Homo sapiens: one gene and its partner. The protein of the gene in region 1 purifies or fractionates together with the protein of each later gene. This does not show direct contact. Each region holds a gene or a part of one and is shown in the gene's direction. Other genes may lie near its edges.

Region 1 (3,757 bases):
TTATAGCCTTTCTCTTAAATGTAATCACTTTCATAAGAAATAAAATTAGGATTTTATTCTCCAATGTTTTTTTAAAGAAAACAACTTCTTTCTTTTCCCAGATGAGTAAAGTTCTTGTGATTCCAGTAAATATCACATTAAAAAACCACTTAGTTCCCAAAGACTTGTCCTTTATCCCAGACCTCCATTTTGTAAATGTGAATAAAAACTCCACAATTGGAAATGGAAATATGTCAAATAGAAAGCATCACTAATTCATAGTCAAATCACAAAATAAACTTTTAGTATTAGATGCTGAGGGCACAGAAAAGTCCTGCGATAATAGCACAACTAAAGGAAGGCTTGGCTGAATATCTCTGTCATGGAAACAAAAAAGACAGATGGAAGAGCATACTTAACAGCTTCTTGTTTTTACGTAATTCAGAAAAGCAGTAAGTGGAGTTCACATTGCTTGGCCTCTAATAGCTGATAGTATGTTCAGAGTAATTGTCAATAGGTGATTCCTATCCACATTTCCCCAGACAGCTCCTCTGTTTTCCCTTTTCACTTTGCCAGTATGGAACCTACCCTGTGCAAGGTATTGTGGTAGATGTTGGGAACTCAAAGGTGTAAAGAAAGCTAGCCACATTTGTGCAGTGATAAAACAAGTAATTCCCCAGACCGGCTGGTGACTTCTGCACTGACTCTTGACGAGCAGGGCTTCACATGCCACATGTAGGTGAGGATCGCTTTTAGATGTTCTCAAAATATGGACCCCAATCCAAACCTGTCTAACAGTAAGGAGAGTCTGGACATACAGATGTTAAAACACAGTGGAGATGATCCTGGACTCCTACATGAAGACTACACAGAACATTATATTGGACTGGGGATTGTTTCTTCCTTAAATACCAGGTTCTTTTAGGGAACATTGGCAGGGCTTTCATTCCTTGTATTGAATATTCTCAAGTCGTGATATTCCCAGTGGTTTTGTTTGCTGTTATGGCTGAGACACACACACACACACACACACACACAACACTCTCACTCTCTCTCTCTCTCACTCACTCATGCCCACACTCTCCCTGTCTTCTTCTTGTTGATTTTTTTTTTTTTTTTTTTTTTTTTTTTTTGCTAGGAGGTTCAGTTCATTGGCTACTTAATATCTATCTCCAGTTTGGTCAATTGTTGATACATCTTTTGACATTTCTGGTTTTCTTGCATTTGATATTTACTCCTTTGCTCGATTTTCTCCACTTTATTCTTGTTCTTTCTCATGTCTTTTGCTTTCCTGAATCTCAGTTGAATTCCTGACAGGGTTTGACTTAAAAAAATCATTATTGTGGTGAGACCTCTCAATATAAGATCTATCCTCTTATTTTTAAGAATACAATACAGTACTGTTAACTGTAGTATAATGTTGTGCAGCAACTCTCTGTAGTTTATTCGTTTTGCTTAACTGAAACTTGATGGCTGTTGAGCAGCAGTTCACCGCCATTCTACTCTGTGTCTATGAGATTGGCTATTTAAACTCCTCATATAAGTGGAACCAGGCAGGATTTGTCCTTCTGTGACTGGCTTATTTCACTTAGCATAATATTCTCGAGGTTAATATATGTTGTTGCATATGGCAGGATTTTCTCCTTTTAGACTGAATATTCCTTTATATGTCTATATATATCACATTTTCTTTATCTGCTCATCCGTTGATGGACAGTGAGGTTGTTTCCACATTTTTTTTTTTTTTTTTTGAGATGGAATCTGGCTCTGTCGCCCAGGCTGGAGTGCAGTGGCACGATCTCAGCTCACTGCAAGCTCCGCCTCCCGAGTTCATGCCATTCTCCTGCCTCAGACTCCCGAATAGCTAGGACTACAGGCACCCGCCACCATGCCCAGCTAATTTTTTTGTATTTTTTTTAGTAGAGACGGGGTTTCACCATGTTAGCCAAGATGGTCTCGATCTCCTGACCTTGTGACCTGCCTGCCTCAGCCTCCCAAAGTGCTGGGATTACAGGCGTGAGCCACCGCTCCAGGCCTCCACATTTTTGCTATTGTGAATAACACTGTAGTGAATATGGGAGTGCTAATATCTCTTTGAGATCCTGATTTCAATTATTTTGTATAAATACCCAGAAGTGGGATTGCTAGATCATGTGGTACTTCTAGTTTTAATCTTTTGAGGCATTTTCATACTGATTTCCATAGTGGATGCACCATTTTACATTCCTACCAACAGTGTATAAGGATTTTTTCTCCGTATCCTCACCACCACTTGTTACCTTTTTTTTTCTTTTATACAACCTACAAATTGGGAGAAAATTTTTGCAACCTACTCATCTGACAAAGGGCTAATATCCAGAATCTACAATGAACTCAAACAAATTTACAAGAAAAAAACAACCCCATCAAAAAGTGGGCGAAGGACATGAACAGACACTTCTCAAAAGAAGACATTTATGCAGCCAAAAAACACATGAAAAAATGCTCACCATCACTGGCCATCAGAGAAATGCAAATCAAAACCACAGTGAGATACCATCTTACACCAGTTAGAATGGCAATCATTAAAAAGTCAGGAAACAACAGGTGCTGGAGAGGATGTGGAGAAAGAGGAACACTTTTACACTGTTGGTGGGACTGTAAACTATTTCAACCATTGTGAAAGTCAGTGTGGTGATTCCTCAGGGATCTAGAACTAGAAATACCATTTGACCCAGCCATCCCATTACTGGGTATATACCCAAAGGACTACAAATCATGCTGCTATAAAGACACATGCACAGGTATGTTTATTGTGGCACTATTCACAATAGCAAAGACTTGGAACCAACCCAAATGTCCAACAACGATAGACTGGATTAAGAAAATGTGGCACATATACACCATGGAATACTATGCAGCCATAAGAAATGATGAGTTCATGTCCTTTGTAGAGACATGGATGAAATTGGAAATCATCATTCTCAGTAAACTATCGCAAGGACAAAAAACGAAACACCACATGTTCTGACTCATAGGTGGGAATTGAACAATGAGAACACATGGACACAGGAAGGGGAATAACATCACACTCTAGGGACTGTTGTGGGGTGGGGGGAGGGGAGAGGCATAACATTAGGAGATATACCTAATGCTAAATAACGAGTTAATGGGTGCAGCACACCAGCATGGCACATGTATACATATGTAACTAACCTGCACATTGTGCACATGTACCCTAAAACTTAAAGTATAATAATAATAATAATAAAAATGAATAAGAAAAAAAATAATAATGGCCAACTTAACAGTTATGAGGTGATATCTCACTGTGGTTTTGATTTGCATTTCCCTGATGGTTAGTGGTGATAATCGTCTTTTCATATATCTATTAGCACATTTGTGTATCTTTTTTAGAGAAATGTGTATTCAAGTTCTCTGTGCATTTTTTCATTGGACTATTTGAGTGTGTTTGTTTGCTTTGAGTCATAGGAGTTACTTATGTATTTCGCATATTCACCCCATACCAGGTATATGGTTTGCAAATATCTCCTCCCATTCTATAGGTTGCCTTTTCAGTCTGTTGACTGAAAGTTTCCTTAGCGCAGACACTTTTTAGTTGAATGTAGTCCCACGTATTTGTTTTTGCTTTTTTTTTTTGTTGCCTATGTCATATCCAAGAAATCATTGCTAAGATCAATGTCAGGGAGCTTTTCCCCTATTTTCCTTCTAAGAGTTTTATAGTTTAAGGTCTTATAGTTAAGTCTTTAATCCATTTTGAGTTGACTTTTGTATATAG
Region 2 (3,757 bases), on another chromosome or scaffold:
GTGGCTCAATCTCGACTCACTGCAACTTGCAACCTCCACCGCCCAGGTTCAAGCAATTCTTTTGCCTCAGCCTCCCGAGTAGCTAGGATTACAGGCCAGGCTGGTTCTTGAACTCCTGACCTCAGGGGATCGCCTGCTTCGGCTTCCCAAAGTCCTGGGATTACAGGCGTGAGCCACCGTGCCTGGCCCAGGGTTTTTTATTTTACAGTATAACTTTGCTAATGAACATCTGATCACCACTTCCCCCCAAATTTAAGGATTTCTGAATAGACTTTTCATTGAGAATGAGTGGCATGTGTGTTTAACGCTCCTCTCCCTATATTTGCTTTTCTTAGTATGTGTGGGAAAAGCCTTAATATTTTCAGAAGTTAGAATAAACTATTTTGTATGCTATGTCTAATGGATGAGTATCAGAGAGCAGAGCTTTCATATACTTGTACCAAATGCTTTCATTTTGTACTGGTTTTTCTGGTTTATTCTTGTGCCTCCTTTTAGAGGCCTACCTCACACTAAGTTTTCCCAGTGTCACGCTTACTAAGCTTGGCATACAGTTTATTCTGTCTCCATGGCACTTTTTATACAGTGTTGTTATTTATTACTGTAATTGTAATTATTTACATGTCTTTTGACTGCTGTTGAACAAGGTTGGTATTTCTAGTTTATAATAGGCTCTTATATTTATGGAATAAGTTTAAAAGTACAGTCTGTATGTAAAGAGACCTTTCAATGCTGTTACGTTCATTTATCATACTAATATTTCCAGTGGATCCATTGATTTGCAGAAAGTGTTTGGTTGGGATTTAGCCTGTCGTGTGAGAAAAGGAAGTGTTGTGTGACATTTTAGTGCCATCTATTGGATACTTGGTAAAATGACTTTTAAAGCTTCTTTTACTTTTTGAAATAAGGATCTTTTGAAAAAAGCTTCTGAAATTGTCTAAGAACTTAAACTCGTTTTATCATTGCTGGTATTGCTATGTAAACACATACCCCCCTCCCAAAGCAGTATTAATATTAAACAACACATAAAATATTAATAATTGGCTACAATTTAACTTACATTTCTAAAGAAAATTAGCCAAAGCATTCAGTGTACATGTTGTTAAACAAGAAGTTTTAAAATATTCATCTGTTAAAACTAATTTTAATTAGTGAGAAAACATTAGGTTTTAATGTGGGAAAGAATTTTAGTAGGAAGAAAAAGCATAATGACTAGACAGTATTTTTCAGTTAAGTACTATTTGAATACCCAAACACTTGTTGAATACCCAAACTGTTGGTGCTATTTTGTATATTTTGAATAATAAATTTTAATGACAGTATCACTATGGGGTGATTAATGAGGAAATAGCTTAGGTGTGTTGTGTGTGTAAGGTTTGAAGAGCCATGAACTAGAAGAGGAGCTAAGGTGAGTTATACCACTAATCTGAAATCCACGATAATACTGGGTTTCACGGACAGACAATTGAGAAACTAATACTGTTTGTTATACATGTGGAAAATGCTTAAACATTTTTAAAGTAGAGTTAGTTTTGTGTATTAGCTATAGATTTCTAATGGTTGTCTTTATAGGAATGAAACAAAAGATGTATAAGCTTATTGTTTCATACTTAGTAACGCTGTTGGTGTGCTTTGTACTTCCCCATTTAAAAGGATTCTTCATTTTGACATTGTACTTCACTCTGAGTAGATTTTCAAAAGCAAAAAAGTATTCTTCCTCAGAAACCCAGAGGAATTTCTAGTTGCTTCTGAATGTTTGGAATATCAGGCAAACATTTAATCTTTTATTCTGTGCCTTGTCTTTTGGTAGAACAGTTTTCTCACTTTTAGGTTTGGATTCGATTTTAGGTTTGAGACAAAAGATTGATTCTTGGACTCTCAAATTTATCTAAAAACATTTGTTCTCATATGAATAACATGCACTTTAAGCACTTTCAGAATTTTTTGCACATCTTATACTTTGAACATAAGAATAGTATTGACACAAAGAATATGAGAACCAAATGTAGTTTATCCAGTTAGAAAATAAACAACTATAATTTTGTAAAATACGTGTGGTACAATGGAAAGGACATGAGATTTGAAGTTAGAGAGACTGAGTTTGAGTCCTGGCATTTTAACTCACTAACTACTATACCTTGTGGTGGAAGAAAATTCTGTATCACACTGCCTATAAAAAATGAAGACCTTTGTGAATGTTAACTATTAATTTGAGGCTTTGTAATTCTTTTCATTAAAGAGAATAAATAGATTGGTATGGCAGACACTGAAGTCTGAAGATTTGTTTGTATTTGTTAGCTGCGTTTGTCGTACCTCGTGCTCATAACTTTGCTGTTCTGTTCAGCTTGTAATTCTTATGAATGCTAATAGCTACATGAGCTCAAAACTTAAAAATATTTATAAAATGATTTTAGTTCCAACTTATATCAGTTTTGTATTTACTGTGGTCAAGGAAAAATTGAGGTATAGTGAAATTATTTGGTAAAGTTAAATAAAAGTTGTGTATATTTTAAGTTGGATTAAACTTAGATTATATATGAAATTGCAATAATGGAGCAGAACCACATTTAAAATATTTGTAGTTTTGTTTGAACATTTTAAAGAAACCTTTGAGTGCAGAAGAATACTTGAGGAAAAATACATATATTAAATAACCCCCAACTTGATTATTATTTGTGTTACCTCTCTTGTAAACTTAAAAATCAAATTATCAGGATTTAGAATTTTCTATTATATAAAAATTTTTTCCTCAGTTTTGAAGCTTTCTGTTGATTTTGGGTGTTCTAAGTTGCTTTTTTTTTAAAAAAGAATTTCTGTTGGTAAATAGTAGGTTTACATATTTATGGGGTACATGAGATATTTTGATAGAGCCATACAATGCATTATAATCACATCAGGGTAAATGGGTTATCCATCACCTCAAGCGTTTCTTTATGCTTTGTGTTACAAACAGTACACTTATACTCTTAGTTATTTTAAAATGTACGATAAATTATTGTAGTCAACCTGTTGTGCTATCAAATACTAGATCTTATTCATTCTAACTATATTTTTGTACCCGTTAACCATTCCCCCCTCCCTCCCCCCCCACCTTTATTGCTTTTTAAAGGAAGGGAGAATGGTTTTTTTGTTAAATAGAAAGGTATGCTTATTTTATTGTCTTTTTTTAAATGACTCATCCATTTATTTCCCTATTATAGCATTTTCTTTTGTAGCTTAATACATGGGTGACTAGATACAGCTTTACCTAGCAAAAGAAATAATGTTCCTCGTTTTCTTGATTATCAGTGATCTCACACTGTAAAATTATATTTTTTTGCAGTATCCCTTTTACTATTCAGCGACTATGTGAATTGTTAACAGATCCAAGGAGAAACTATACAGGAACAGACAAATTTCTCAGAGGAGTAGAAAAGGTATTTATTTTATTATTGGAATTATATTATGCTGTGGTGTAATAGCTTTTATTTTAGAAAAGAACATTGAGTAAGATCTGTTTCGGGTACCACTTCTTGAAATATGTTTTTCAGCCTACCTTGAGTTTCCCAAATTGTTTTCCAAATTGCATTCTGTTTTACAGAGAGATTTAATAGGACCGGGTAGAGGAGGGTTTGTGTGTTGGTCATTGAAGTTTGGTGAAAGCAGCTTATTATTTCTTGGAAATTCATAGTGTATATCAACTTATTAAAGGTTCTGTGAAGTTATAATTGCTATTTTAACTTTATAGAGTGTTTTATAAACTTACACATGGAATTCATTT

Evidence for each region. Proteins that work in one complex are often made in the same cells at the same time.
Region 2: the proteins of CCDC6 (region 1) and PPP4R2 purify together in Homo sapiens (co-immunoprecipitation; 4 studies listed by BioGRID and IntAct, with this or other methods). This does not show direct contact.

The regions. Positions count from the first base shown.
Region 1 is NC_000010.11:59,794,944-59,798,700, reverse strand, and holds part of CCDC6 (coiled-coil domain-containing protein 6), read left to right. Parts: intron 1-3,757.
Region 2 is NC_000003.12:73,055,718-73,059,474, forward strand, and holds part of PPP4R2 (serine/threonine-protein phosphatase 4 regulatory subunit 2), read left to right. Parts: intron 1-3,319; coding exon 3,320-3,413; intron 3,414-3,757. UniProt on the Homo sapiens protein: Regulatory subunit of serine/threonine-protein phosphatase 4 (PP4). May regulate the activity of PPP4C at centrosomal microtubule organizing centers.